Regions from separate parts of the Homo sapiens genome. Here all the other regions are reported to be linked to region 3. Evidence: microRNA targets listed by miRTarBase, many of them from high-throughput screens and not tested one by one. Region 3 holds a microRNA gene; each other region holds the end of a gene's coding sequence.
The links. The annotated mature microRNA hsa-miR-6746-5p reads CCGGGAGAAGGAGGUGGCCUGG and lies in region 3 at 1,367-1,388, shown strand. An mRNA with a match to its seed (bases 2 to 7 or 8) in the 3' UTR can be bound and repressed. Matches are read on the target gene's strand: a 7mer-m8 pairs with bases 2 to 8, a 7mer-A1 pairs with bases 2 to 7 and ends in A, and an 8mer does both.

Region 1: miRTarBase lists XPNPEP3 as a target of hsa-miR-6746-5p. Seed matches in the 3' UTR shown: 7mer-A1 at 597-603.
Region 2: miRTarBase lists AQP2 as a target of hsa-miR-6746-5p. Seed matches in the 3' UTR shown: 7mer-m8 at 450-456.

What each region holds. Positions count from the first base shown.
Region 1 is chr22:40,925,788-40,929,914 of GRCh38, reverse strand. XPNPEP3 (X-prolyl aminopeptidase 3) reads right to left here. Exons shown (of 10, transcript NM_022098.4): 10 at 1-3,646. The coding sequence ends at 3,480. Among named protein-coding and RNA genes, the nearest start is that of RBX1, 24 kb to the left of the region's middle.
Region 2 is chr12:49,955,234-49,959,360 of GRCh38, forward strand. AQP2 (aquaporin 2) reads left to right here. Exons shown (of 4, transcript NM_000486.6): 4 at 166-3,645. The coding sequence ends at 375. The region is part of intron 1 of AQP5-AS1 (AQP5 and AQP2 antisense RNA 2); the gene reads right to left. Among named protein-coding and RNA genes, the nearest start is that of AQP5, 4.6 kb to the right of the region's middle.
Region 3 is chr11:61,875,513-61,879,639 of GRCh38, reverse strand. It overlaps MIR6746 (microRNA 6746), which reads left to right and starts at 1,362; the gene lies at 1,362-1,424. It overlaps FADS3 (fatty acid desaturase 3), which reads left to right. Exons shown (of 12, transcript NM_021727.5): 3 at 131-328; 4 at 793-894; 5 at 1,006-1,128; 6 at 1,425-1,485; 7 at 2,053-2,129; 8 at 2,677-2,774; 9 at 3,185-3,281; 10 at 3,450-3,529; 11 at 3,664-3,789. RefSeq lists an enhancer at 1-473.

The DNA of each region.
Region 1 (4,127 bases), not on the chromosome of region 3:
AAATACTATTAGAAAAATAAAATTATTTGATATCCAGTAACAGTTAATAGCATTCTCTGTATTAAAAAATTACTAAAGGGAAATGGGTATGTCTGCGGCATGGCTGAGAATGAGTAAGATCACACACAGCTTATCTGCTCAACAAATCCTGAATATATCAGACAGCCCATAACATTGCTATGAGAAGTCTGATTCAAATGCTTAGCTGCTATAGTTAGTTAATCTGGGACTCAAAGGACAATATACCTGGGTCAGGGACTGAAAATCACCAGAAGAATTCTACAACAGCCTTTCTGCCTACCAATAACACCTATAGAACTTGACTGGAATCTAACCAGAAGTGTGTTTCATGTCCAAGTATGCTGCTATACATACAAGCTACCTAGGCTTTTAGCTAGAAAAGTTTAGACCATAGAAAATGATACAGGAGGTGCGGTGGCTCACGTCTGTAATCGCAGCACTTAGGGAGGCCGAGGCGGGCAGATCATGAGGTCAGGAGTTCGAGACCAGCCTGGCCAACACAGTGAAACCTCGTCTCTATTTAAAATACAAAAAAATAGCCGGGTGTGGTGGCAGGCGCCTGTATTCCTAGCTATTCGGGAGGCTGAGGCAGGAGAATCGCTTGAACCTGGGAGATGGAGGTTGCAGGGAGCTGAGGTCTCGCTATTGCACACCAGCCCCGGTGACAGTGTGAGACTCCGTCTCAAAAAAAAAAAAAAAAAGAAAAGAAAAGAAAATGATACAAGAAGAAAAGGAAATTCCTTATTCCTGGATTACAAATGAACAAAGGAAACACAATCCAAGGAAAGGGCTGTTGGGGGCACAGAGCCTGGGAAGTGAGCAGCCAGAGCTGTGGAGTTATTTCCCTCCCCTTTTTTTAAAAAGCTCTGGATTGAGAAATTGGAGGGAGGTGGGAAGGTGGGTATGGGGGATGGAGACTCCAGCTGTGCAGCCTCCATTCTGAGAGCTGCTTAGATAAGGTGCGCAAAGCCAGGCATTCCTAGGCTAGCACTGTCAGGATATGATTTGTATCACTTTTGTTTTCACATTATCTGTCTCTTGAGGAAGTCACTGCCTGTCTGCTTTTCACTCTGTACCCTGGGTTTCCCTGATAAGATAGGCAAACTTCCAGCATTACAGAGATTGTTAATCCCCTAGCTTGTGCTTCCCTAATACAAATTGTTTTTTTAAGAAACCCTCAAATTTGTGTTCTAACAATTGGCATGTTTTATACATCTTGACCTCATATCCAGGTTTAAAGGAGGTGAACACACTGGTTCTTAAAGCTTCCCTCTATCACAGACGCTCCTAAATAAGCTATCTGTGGTAATCTAGCCCTGTTCATCTTGCAAACTGAGTTGCTGTATAATTGTATCCAATGTTTGTGTTTAAAAAAATATGACTCTTACACCGGGCGCAGTGGCTCATGCCTGTAATCCTAGCACTTTGGGAGGCTGAGGTGGGCGGATTGCCGGAGCTCAGGAGTTTGAGACCGGCCTGGGCAACAGGGTGAAACCCTGTCTCTACTAAAATACAAAAAATTAGCTGGGCATGGCAGCGTGCACCTGTAGTCCCAGTTACTTGGGAGGCTGAGGCAGGAGAATTGCCTGAACCCAGGTGGTGGAGGTTGTAGTGAGCTGAGATTACGCCACTGCACTCCATCCAGCCCAGGCGACAGAGCGAGACTCTGTCTCCAAAAAAAAAAAAAAAAAAGAAGTATGACTCTTTACCACTGCACTCCCAGTGCTAGTATCAAAGAAAGATAAGAATCATAGGATATTTACGGGTACTTGGTAGATTCCATATTTTGTTTCTATTAGCACTAGAGGAAATCACAGAATGATAACAGGGGTACTTCTCTGAAAACTGGGCGCTACTACTGTGACTCTGACAGGGTACGTAAGTAGAGGATCTGCTCCTGCGCAGCACAACAGCTAAAAGGGTAACCTGTGAGGGTCAGTGCATTAAGAATCTATAGAGGGAGCAGGGATATCTGCGAAAGAAATCTTTCTTTTTTTTTTCTTTTTTTTTTTTTTTTTTGAGACGGAGTCTCGCTCTGTCACCCAGGCTGGAGTGCAGTGGCGCGATCTTGGCTCACTGCAAGCTCTGCCTTCTGGGTTCACGCCATTCTCCTGCCTCAGCCTCCTGAGTAGCTGGGACTACAGGCATCCGCCACCACGCCCAGCTAATTTTTTTTGTATTTTTAGTAAAGACGGGGTTTCACCGTGTTAGCCAGGAGGTCTCAATCTCCTGACCTCGTGATCCGCCCACCTCGGCCTCCCAAAGTGCTGGGATTACAGGCTTGAGCCACCACGCCCGGCCAGAAATCATTTTTTTCTTTTCTTTTTATTAATTTTTGAAGTCATCATTAAGAAATCAACTTTAAATTGAAGAGAAAAGATGGCAGGATGTCAGGATTTTATTTATTTATTTGTTTTTTTGAGGCAGAGTCTTGCTCAGTCACCCAGGCTGGAGTGCAGTCGCATGAGCTCAGCTCACTGCAACCTCCACCTCCCAGGTTCAAGCAATTCTCATGCCTCAGCCTCCCAAGTAGCCAGGATTACAGGCATGTATCATCACACCCAGCTCATTTTTGTATTTTTAGTAGAGACAGTGTTTCACCACGTTGGCCAGGCTGGTCTTGACCTCCTGGTCTCAAGAGATCCACCTGCCTGGACCTCCCAAAGTGCTGGGATTACAGGCGGAACCGCTGTGCCCAGCCCTGATGTCTGGATCTTTAGTATATACATATATAATTTTCTTTCTCTTCCATTTCCATCTTTATCAAGAATCTAAACACTTTCCAGGTCCCAGGCAACCAAATGGCAAGAAAAGCTCAGAAGTGTTTTGTTTGGTAGGTAGCTAGTGTTGCTGGAACCTGGACTGTGGCTGACTAGTAAGACTGCAGGACACCAGTGCCCCTGAGGGCTCATATGGCTCCAGTAGATATGCAGGATCTAGAATAGGTAGGGAGGAGTTACAGAAGGTATGTATTGGCCGCCCACAATCACCGAAAGATGAATTTTTGCATAGGCAGAGACCTTGGTAATTAGCTAAAAATACAGGCATCACACAAACTTCTTATGATATTGGGTTGATCTCAGCAAAAGTATAGAAAGGGAAGGACTTGAAAGAAGAAGTGAATTTTCTATATGTTTAAATGTGTTAACTGGAATGCATGGACATGTGTAACCAAGACCTTTATGTTTAAAAATTAAACTTGCTCTGATCATTAATTCTATAGAATTAATGTTACCAAAGCTGCAGTAACATACTATTCAAAAATTCATTTTCCCAGACTTCTAACTACTTAAAACAAAAAACCCCCCACACACAATTACATACATTCACACAGCTGCTATGCTCCCAAATGGAATGCATATATTAATGCACACACAGAGACACTCAGAAAGCACACGTGCAGGGCTGCCAGAAGACACCCATTTTGAACCTGAGGTGCATGTGGGCCGCAGTGAAGGTCAAGAAGCCTGGCTGCATATCTGTTCAATGTCATTCATCTCTTTGGGACAGTCTGCAGAAAGGATGAGAGGTGAGTCCTGAGTCACCACTACATCATCCTCAATTCGTACACCAAGACCCCGAAACTTCTCTGGGGCATCTTTGTCATCCTCTGGAATATAAATGCCTGTGAAGTAGAAAGAAGAACATGCTGTTCAGGAATGATAGTAACTGGGTGGTTTGGGGCAAGTAAGTTAACCTCTGGGTTAAAATTCCTTCCTCTGTAATACTGGATCTTTATGGTACCTACCTAGTAAAGCTGTGAGGATTAAATGAGATAATACATGTCAAAGTGGCTGGCATATAATGGTCAACACATGTTGGTATCATTACTAAAATTATTATTGTGGTTATCTTTATATTGGACTACAAGCTAAATACAACTACGGCAATGCTGATCATGATTCTGTCATATTCTAGTGGCTCAAGCAGGCCAATAAAGTTACTTAATTTAAAAGTACGTCAATATATGTGGGGGACAAGCAGATTATGTAAGTGCATTCTTCCCCTGCCTAAGAGTCCCTTGGAAAAAGAGCACCTTGCAAAAATAAAGACAAAATATATTTAAACTGTATTCAAAGAAACATTTAGAGATTATTAGCCTTGAC
Region 2 (4,127 bases), not on the chromosome of region 3:
GCTTCCCCAGCAGCTGGCGTTGTCGTTGTAATTACATAAATAAGCATTTTACTAGATTAATGTCGGGGAGGAGAGGTGCGGCCGCAGAGTGTGCCGCCGGGGCCTGCGGGCTCCGCGTGCCGGTGCCGGCGCGGGTGCCAAGCCGCCCTCTCCGCTCGCCCCCAGGTCTTCTGGATCGGACCCCTGGTGGGCGCCATCCTGGGCTCCCTCCTCTACAACTACGTGCTGTTTCCGCCAGCCAAGAGCCTGTCGGAGCGCCTGGCAGTGCTGAAGGGCCTGGAGCCGGACACCGATTGGGAGGAGCGCGAGGTGCGACGGCGGCAGTCGGTGGAGCTGCACTCGCCGCAGAGCCTGCCACGGGGTACCAAGGCCTGAGGGCCGCCAGCGGCCTCTACGGCCCCGACGGACGCTTGTGAGGCCCGAGGCAGAAGGGCCCACCCCGTCCCTCCTCTCCCGCAGGTCTGAAGTTGGCCCCCCAGCGCAGAGTAGCTGCTTCCTGGACGTGCGCGCCCAGGCCAGTGCTGTGAGCAGGCGGGGAGGAGGCTGCCGGAGGGAGCCCTGAGCCTGGCAGGTCCCCTGCCCTGAGGCTGTGAGCAGCTAGTGGTGGCTTCTCCAGCCTTTTTCAGGGAACTGGGAACTTAGGGGACTGAGCTGGGGAGGGAGGCAGGTGGGTGGTAAGAGGGAAACTCTGGAGAGCCTGCACCCAGGTACTGAGTGGGGAGTGTACAGACCCCTGCCTTGGGGGTTCCGGGAATGATGCAACTGGTTTTACTAGTGTGCAAGTGTGTTCATCCCCAAGTTCTCTTTTGTCCTCACATGCAGAGTTGTGCATGCCCCTGAGTGTGAACAGGTTTGCCTACGTTGGTGCAAGTGTGCATGGCTGGGGACTTCTCACTTCCCCTTGCACCCCTTCCTCCCCAACCTGCAATAAATCCGCTTCTCCTGCAGTGGATGAGTGTGGGTGCCAGTCCTCCTCAGGAGAAGGGGAAGGGAAGGAGGCCACTTTGAGAGGGCTGAAGGGAGGGCCTTGATTTCCAGCCGCAATCTGGCTCCTCCTGGAAAATTTCCCCCACCTGCAGCGCTGGGCCCCAAGGCTTGCCAAGACTCATTGCTGGAGGTAGAGAGGTGTCAACCAGAGAACAGCTCCCCTAGACATGGCCTCTGGAAAAAGGAAATCTTTGGTGGCCAAAGATTTCCTTTCTGTGGTGAGGGAGAACCTCTCCAAAGAGGAAGCAGGCATATGAGTGCGCACGCCTTCACGTGTGTGTATGCTGTGTGTGCCCGGGACCCCCGTCTCCAGGGGTGCCCCAGACCCAGAGATTAGCCTCCCACTTCGGCGCAGAAAACAAAAGCCCTTTGTGGGACCCGGGCCTTTGTCTTGGGTGAGGGGAGATTTGCACCTAGACACTTCTTGAAAGGAGACACTCAGTTTCACAAGTGAGCCCTCTTGCCCAGCACACACCTATGGCTGGCTGGGCAAGGCGCTCAGGCATGCAACCATGGGCACCAGGCAATACCCATCCATCACCCATCTCACTCTCCCCAGTCCTCAGGCAGCAGCTTTTCCACCCCAGGAATCTCTGTTCCTTCTCTGTCTGCCTCTCCACAGCCCGTGATCCCCTGCTTCTGGCTCCTACCACTGGACAGTCATTGTGGATAGAGCAGCCTGCTGCTCTCAGGACCAGAGAAGGGAAATGACTTCTCCAGGCAGAGGCAGATCTGAGTCTAGAACCCAGGCTTCTAAATTTCTAGGCCAGTACTACTGCTCTCAAAAGAGATTAACTGGGATTAAGTGAGATGACGCATGTAAAGATGCTGTGTAAACTGTAATTCTTAATACCATTATCACGCATTACTAGAATCATTTCATTATTTCTGCTTCCTGGGGGAAGGATGCAGAAGGAGTCTGATGCTCAACATCCCTTACCTCCTTTCGTTGATGGCCAAAGCAAAGGAGAGTCCTGGGAGCCCACAAGATCCAGGCAGAAGGAGATGGGTTTGGGGCTGGCCCCATCCTGGCCCAGCCTCTTAACCTCTTCTTACCCTGAATGTGTGCCCTATCTTTTCTCCCACCTCCTTCCTCCTACCACCCAGCCCTATCCATTCTCTCCTTCCCTCTCCAGCCTGCTGTATAAGTAACATGTGGGTCATACCTTGAACCCCCCTCCGCCCCCATGCTCTCTGTGGCCTCCATGCCTTCAAGACTTCTGTCTGTATCTATCTCACACTGCACCAAGCACCCACTGTGCACCAGGCACTAAGTCTCTAGCCTCTTTCTCCCTTCTGCTCCCATCCAAGAAAGACAGTGTATAAGGAACATCTCTGTAATTGTGTCCCCTCTCATCTATGCTCTTTCCTGTCTTCCTTGACCAAAGCTCTCTTTGAGGTCCAAAAAAGGCTGCCCTGGGCCATATGTGCTATGGAGAGGACTCTCCCAAACCCCCAATAGCTAGTGACAGCCACTTGGCCTCACTACCAGAAGAAGGGTGGAGTCAGAAACCAAAGTGACCTCCAGAGCTGTCCTCCTGGCACCTGAGTGTCCTTGCTCTAGAGGTTCAAAGGCAGCAAGGCAGTGAGCTATGAGCCCAGCATGGATGTGTCTCAGGCACCTCATCCCCACCCCACCTCACCCCAACAAACTCCTCTAGAAGAAGCCAAGAATTTCTCTCTATGTCTGTTTCACTTTTTGGATTGCATCTCCCCAAAAACTAAATGTGAAATCCCTACCATTTCTAGCCTCTATTGCCCAGATTGGAGTCAGAGGTCAAAAAAGGATTCCAAGTGATGGAACTCCAGGGGTGGAGGGAAATTGGCAGTTCCTGGCATCTCTTGTGTACCAGCTGCTGTGCTGGGTGCCTTGCATGCACGGACTTATCTGATCTTCCTCAAACTTCAGATAGGTTAGGGAAGGACAAAGGCCCCCAGCCATGAAGGGTTTTGCTATTTCCAAAGCTTCCCCTTATCGTCCCCTGTGATTATCTCCCAACCCCGTGACAAAGGTAGAGCAAATATTGTTCTTCCCATTTTACAGATTCAGAAACCAAGGCTAAGGGACTGGTCTAAAGTCTCACAGGTAGTATATGGTGGAGCCAACACTTGAACTCAGACCTTTTTACACAAAATCCCATGATTTTTCCACTGAGACAAATCCTAGGCTCCTGGGAGGCCCTGGCAGAAGCCAGAACACATGGCTGGGCCTTTCCAGCCCAACCCACTGTCTTGCAGTGGACGGAGAGCCTTGGCGAGGGCAGCAGGGTAGAGAGGACAAAGAATGTGGGGCTGGTTTCTGCCCTTTAAGAGCACCCGGTCAGTCAGAGAACAGAGATCACACACACCAAACCAGACAGAGGCAGGGCAGCATGGAGACAGGTAGACAGACCTCCAGGTCCCTAAGCTGGGGACAGAGAAGGTTCTGAGCTGTCCCATACTCCCACTTTGTGCCAAATGACTTTGCACCTGCAAATGGTGCTTCAATGTCGTTTTGTATCTTTAAGCTGTGATGTTGTATATATACAATGCCTCCCAGCTAGACTGTAAGCCCTTTGGGGACAAGGGCTGCTTCCAGTTCTTGGATGGCGTTCTCCTATCTACCTTCCTTCAACTGCTCTGCATATAATAAGCACTCAATAAATGCTCATTTGCCAATAAGTACTGTTTCTTCCACAACTTGGCAGTGGTAATAGAAATACAGCCCAAGGTACCAGAAGACAGGCGGAGCTCCCTACCACTTCTACCCCAGCCCTCAACTTCTCCCAGGGAACTCAGAAGTCCCCATATCAGGAGAGGAGGGGAAGGGCTCTCCCTAAGACATTCAAATTCCCCCTGCCACAAATGGGGAGACCCATCACTCAGCTCACAAAGGTCCCGGGCATTCCTCTGGAGCTGCCAGGGCAGGGCCTGAGTGCTTGGGCAAAGAGAATTCCGAGACATAATGGGAGTTTACTGTGATGACTTGAGGACAGAGGGACTCTAGTGGTTAGAGAGATGGAAGAGCCTAAGACACAGGCCCTAGGAAACAGAATCAGCTGCCCTGTGTGAGTAACCTTGACAGATGAAATCTCCTTCTTTGGCCTCACCAGGCCCACTCCTGATGACCAAGTCTATGTGGCGACCTGTGGTTCCCATCT
Region 3 (4,127 bases):
ACTCTTGTCACTTCATTCCTCTTTGCCCACACCCCTTGGGCCTGGCGATGGGAGGAGCGGCTGGGGCTCCAGGAGAATGGGGGTGGGGAGGAATTTCTTCCTTGGCTGATCGGCCCCTCTGCTATGGCAGGCGCAGCTGGTCGAGGACTTCCGAGCCCTGCACCAGGCAGCCGAGGACATGAAGCTGTTTGATGCCAGTCCCACCTTCTTTGCTTTCCTACTGGGCCACATCCTGGCCATGGAGGTGCTGGCCTGGCTCCTTATCTACCTCCTGGGTCCTGGCTGGGTGCCCAGTGCCCTGGCCGCCTTCATCCTGGCCATCTCTCAGGTGACCCCAGTTCTGTGTTGCAGCCACCTTAACTGCCCAACAGACGTGGGCCCCCATGCATCTGGGCATTGTGAACATATTTGCTAAATGAATGAATGGACCTATGAAAGGATGAATGGATGAATAAACAGATGAATGAGTGAACAGTCTGAAGGCCCATCAGGCATGTCTGTGGGTCAAGCTGCATTCCAGATGAGCCAAGAAGTTCCTTCTTGAACAGATTCCGATCAAGCACAGGGCCACTGAGCCAGAGGCTGCTGCCCTGCAGCTTCATGACACTTACGAGCCCCTCCACCTCCCTGGGACTCAGTTCTCATCTGTAAAAAGAGGACACTGGCCCACAAGGGTCTTGAAATGGAGCATTAGCACGGGGGTACCCTGCAAGCTGAAAGGATTCACTGGGGCCCCAGGCCCTGGCGGGCTCCGTCCTTCCCAACAGCTTCTGACCCTGCCTCTCTCCCCAGGCTCAGTCCTGGTGTCTGCAGCATGACCTGGGCCATGCCTCCATCTTCAAGAAGTCCTGGTGGAACCACGTGGCCCAGAAGTTCGTGATGGGGCAGCTAAAGGTGAGGGTGGGGTGGGTGGTCAGCCAGGTGCTGGGTGGCGCTGGGTCTGCCCAAGTGTGTGGGCACAGTCGGGGGCACAGCCTGCCCTGAGAGCCCCCTCCTCCTCCACAGGGCTTCTCCGCCCACTGGTGGAACTTCCGCCACTTCCAGCACCACGCCAAGCCCAACATCTTCCACAAAGACCCAGACGTGACGGTGGCGCCCGTCTTCCTCCTGGGGGAGTCATCCGTCGAGGTGGGTGGGGAGGGACGTGGACAACCTCTGGCTGGGCCTGCAGCTGAGGGGGAGCTAATGCACTGGGTCCCCACTCTGCCCCTGACCTAGCCCCTGATCTGGCCTCCACTCTGGCTGGGCCAAGCTCTGCCCCCGTGTCTTTCCTTCCCACCTCCCAACCTGCTGGGGACGACCAGCCCGCTTGCTAGAATCTAGAGTTGCCTTTGACCCTTGGCCCCAGCCAGCCCCGTGACCTTGCCCGGGAGAAGGAGGTGGCCTGGAGAGCTGCTGTCTCCAGCCGCCGCCTGTCTCCACAGTATGGCAAGAAGAAACGCAGATACCTACCCTACAACCAGCAGCACCTGTACTTCTTCCTGAGTGAGTGTCCATCTGTCCTTCTGGGGTGGGGGAGTGCCTGGGCCTGCACTGTCCTCCCTGCTGTCCTGGACCACTCCCAGCCACTTCCTGGGGCGGGGCACGTCTGTCAGGTCTCCCTGGTCATGGCATCCTCCCAGCCTCTGCAGTCTGTACACACTCTCCCAGCAGCATGCCTTTGCCCCAGCTGTCTCCCGTGCCTGGGACACCTTGCAGCCACGGGCCATCACAGCCCTGCTGGGAGCTTCCCCAAGCCCCACGTAGAATTTCTTCTTGCCCTCACTAGAGTGGTCCGGAGCCCTAGAGTCTTTGGGCAGTTGTTGGGGCGGACAGAGTGAGGACTCAAGTCTGGCCCTGACTTGCGGTGAAGGGTGGTGGGAGGTGGTGGGGTAAGGGCAGCCTGGGGAGGCTTGGACACAGAATTGGGGGTGATATGGGGTCATTCAGCTGGATGTGACCAGCACCAACGTCCCAGGGGCATTCCTGGAGTAACAGAGCCCCTCACTCTGGCGCCCACTCACCTTGGCAGCCCAGCCCCACTCCTGAACACTCTCATGCCCCTTCTTGCAGTCGGCCCGCCGCTGCTCACCCTGGTGAACTTTGAAGTGGAAAATCTGGCGTACATGCTGGTGTGCATGCAGTGGGCGGTGAGTGGGGTTGCCCAGGACCCCGGGCATACGGCTGCCGTGGCAGGAGGTGGTGCCTCGGGGGACAGTACCTGCCCATGAAGGCAAACAGGGTGCACATGTGCGTGCAACAGTGTGGCTCACATGTATGCGTGCAACAGTGTGGCTCACATGTGTGCGCGCAGCAGGAGAGCGAGTGTGCCCGTGACTGTACGTGTGGTGGGGGGGGGTTGAGGAACAGGGGGGGTGTGGGTCTCTCTCGGTGAGGGTGTCTTCCCAGGAGGAGTTGCTGGGCTGACTCTGCCAGGCATCTGTGTCCCTGGCAGGGTCTTCCCCAACACACCCTGCATGACACCTTCGTCACTAAAATCAGCCTCGTGAGCTGGCAGGGCAAGGACCCTGTTCCTTTACTCAGCTGAGAAAACCAGAGAGGGTGGTGGCCTGTCCTGGGCTCTGAGGCAAATCAGGCAGAAGGGTTGGATGCCTGAGGTCCTCCTCCCACCCACCAGGCCTCCAGACCTCCGGGCACCTGGAGACCTCTCGGTATCGCCTCTGCCCTCCTCTGCAGGATTTGCTCTGGGCCGCCAGCTTCTATGCCCGCTTCTTCTTATCCTACCTCCCCTTCTACGGCGTCCCTGGGGTGCTGCTCTTCTTTGTTGCTGTCAGGTATGGCAGGGAGTGGCGAGGTCACACACAGGCGACAGGTGACCCCCACTGCAGCCCCCCACCAGAGCTTCCCTTTTCCCGTCTGCAGAATGGGGCCAGTGGTACTGCCTCCCTGGCTTGCTGGTGGAATCACATAAACACAAGCGTGGCAGGAGCCCAGGGTCGGTGGGTTTAGGGAGCGTGGCCTGGCTTGTAAGTGGCCCGGTGGGTGTCGGAGCTGCTCTGGACTCAGCCTCACAGTGGACACTGCTCCATTCAGATTCTTTAAACACTGGCAAGGGGGCGATGGCCACAATCCTATTGTACAGATAAGGAAGTCAAGGCCACTTGGGGACAGCTGCTCTCCAGCCTCCACTCAGGGTGCCTAAGTGGTGAGCTGGACCTAGGGCAGTGCCCGAGCCTCCCCACAGGGTCCTGGAAAGCCACTGGTTCGTGTGGATCACACAGATGAACCACATCCCCAAGGAGATCGGCCACGAGAAGCACCGGGACTGGGTCAGCTCTCAGGTGGGCAGCAGGGGTGGGGCCCATCCTGGGTGGGGTGGGGGGTCCCAGCTAGGAGCCAGATGGCAAAGCAGGGATGAGGCCCTGACGGGGCTGCCAGGTGGGGGATGGTGCCGTGGGGTCAGGGATCTGCAACGGCCTCCTCACATGTGCCCCGCCGGCTTCCGGCAGCTGGCAGCCACCTGCAACGTGGAGCCCTCACTTTTCACCAACTGGTTCAGCGGGCACCTCAACTTCCAGATCGAGCACCAGTGAGTGTGGGTGCTGGGGGCCAGTGGGAGGTGGGGAGGGGGTCCTGGGAGGGGATCCTGGGAGGGGACCCGTGGGTGGGGCCTCTCTCTGGAATCTCCCACTTCAGGTGCCAGCATACGCTCCCCACCCCCAGCCTCTTCCCCAGGATGCCGAGACACAACTACAGCCGGGTGGCCCCGCTGGTCAAGTCGCTGTGTGCCAAGCACGGCCTCAGCTACGAAGTGAAGCCCTTCCTCACCGCGCTGGTGGACATCGTCAGGTGAGGCTGCAGCCCGGCCCCTCTGTTCTGGTGGCTTCCCCAGGGCCTATGCCTACCCTTGTCCAGGTCAGCCTCATGCTGAGCCCCCAGGGTCCCTGAGCCTTTCTGTCCACGTCCCATGCCCTTCCTCCCTTCCCCAGCCTTCACGCACACAGTGAGAATTTCTGGAGCACCTACTGCAGACTCACAAACAGCAGTGCCTGCGGTGAGCAGGTCTATGCAAACCTACCCCCAAAGGCTGAGGGAAAGAAGCTAACAGATCCAGTTTCTCAGAAGGAAACACTTAACAGGGACTCATAAACAGAAGCCATGTCTCAGGGCCGGGTGCGGTGGCTCAC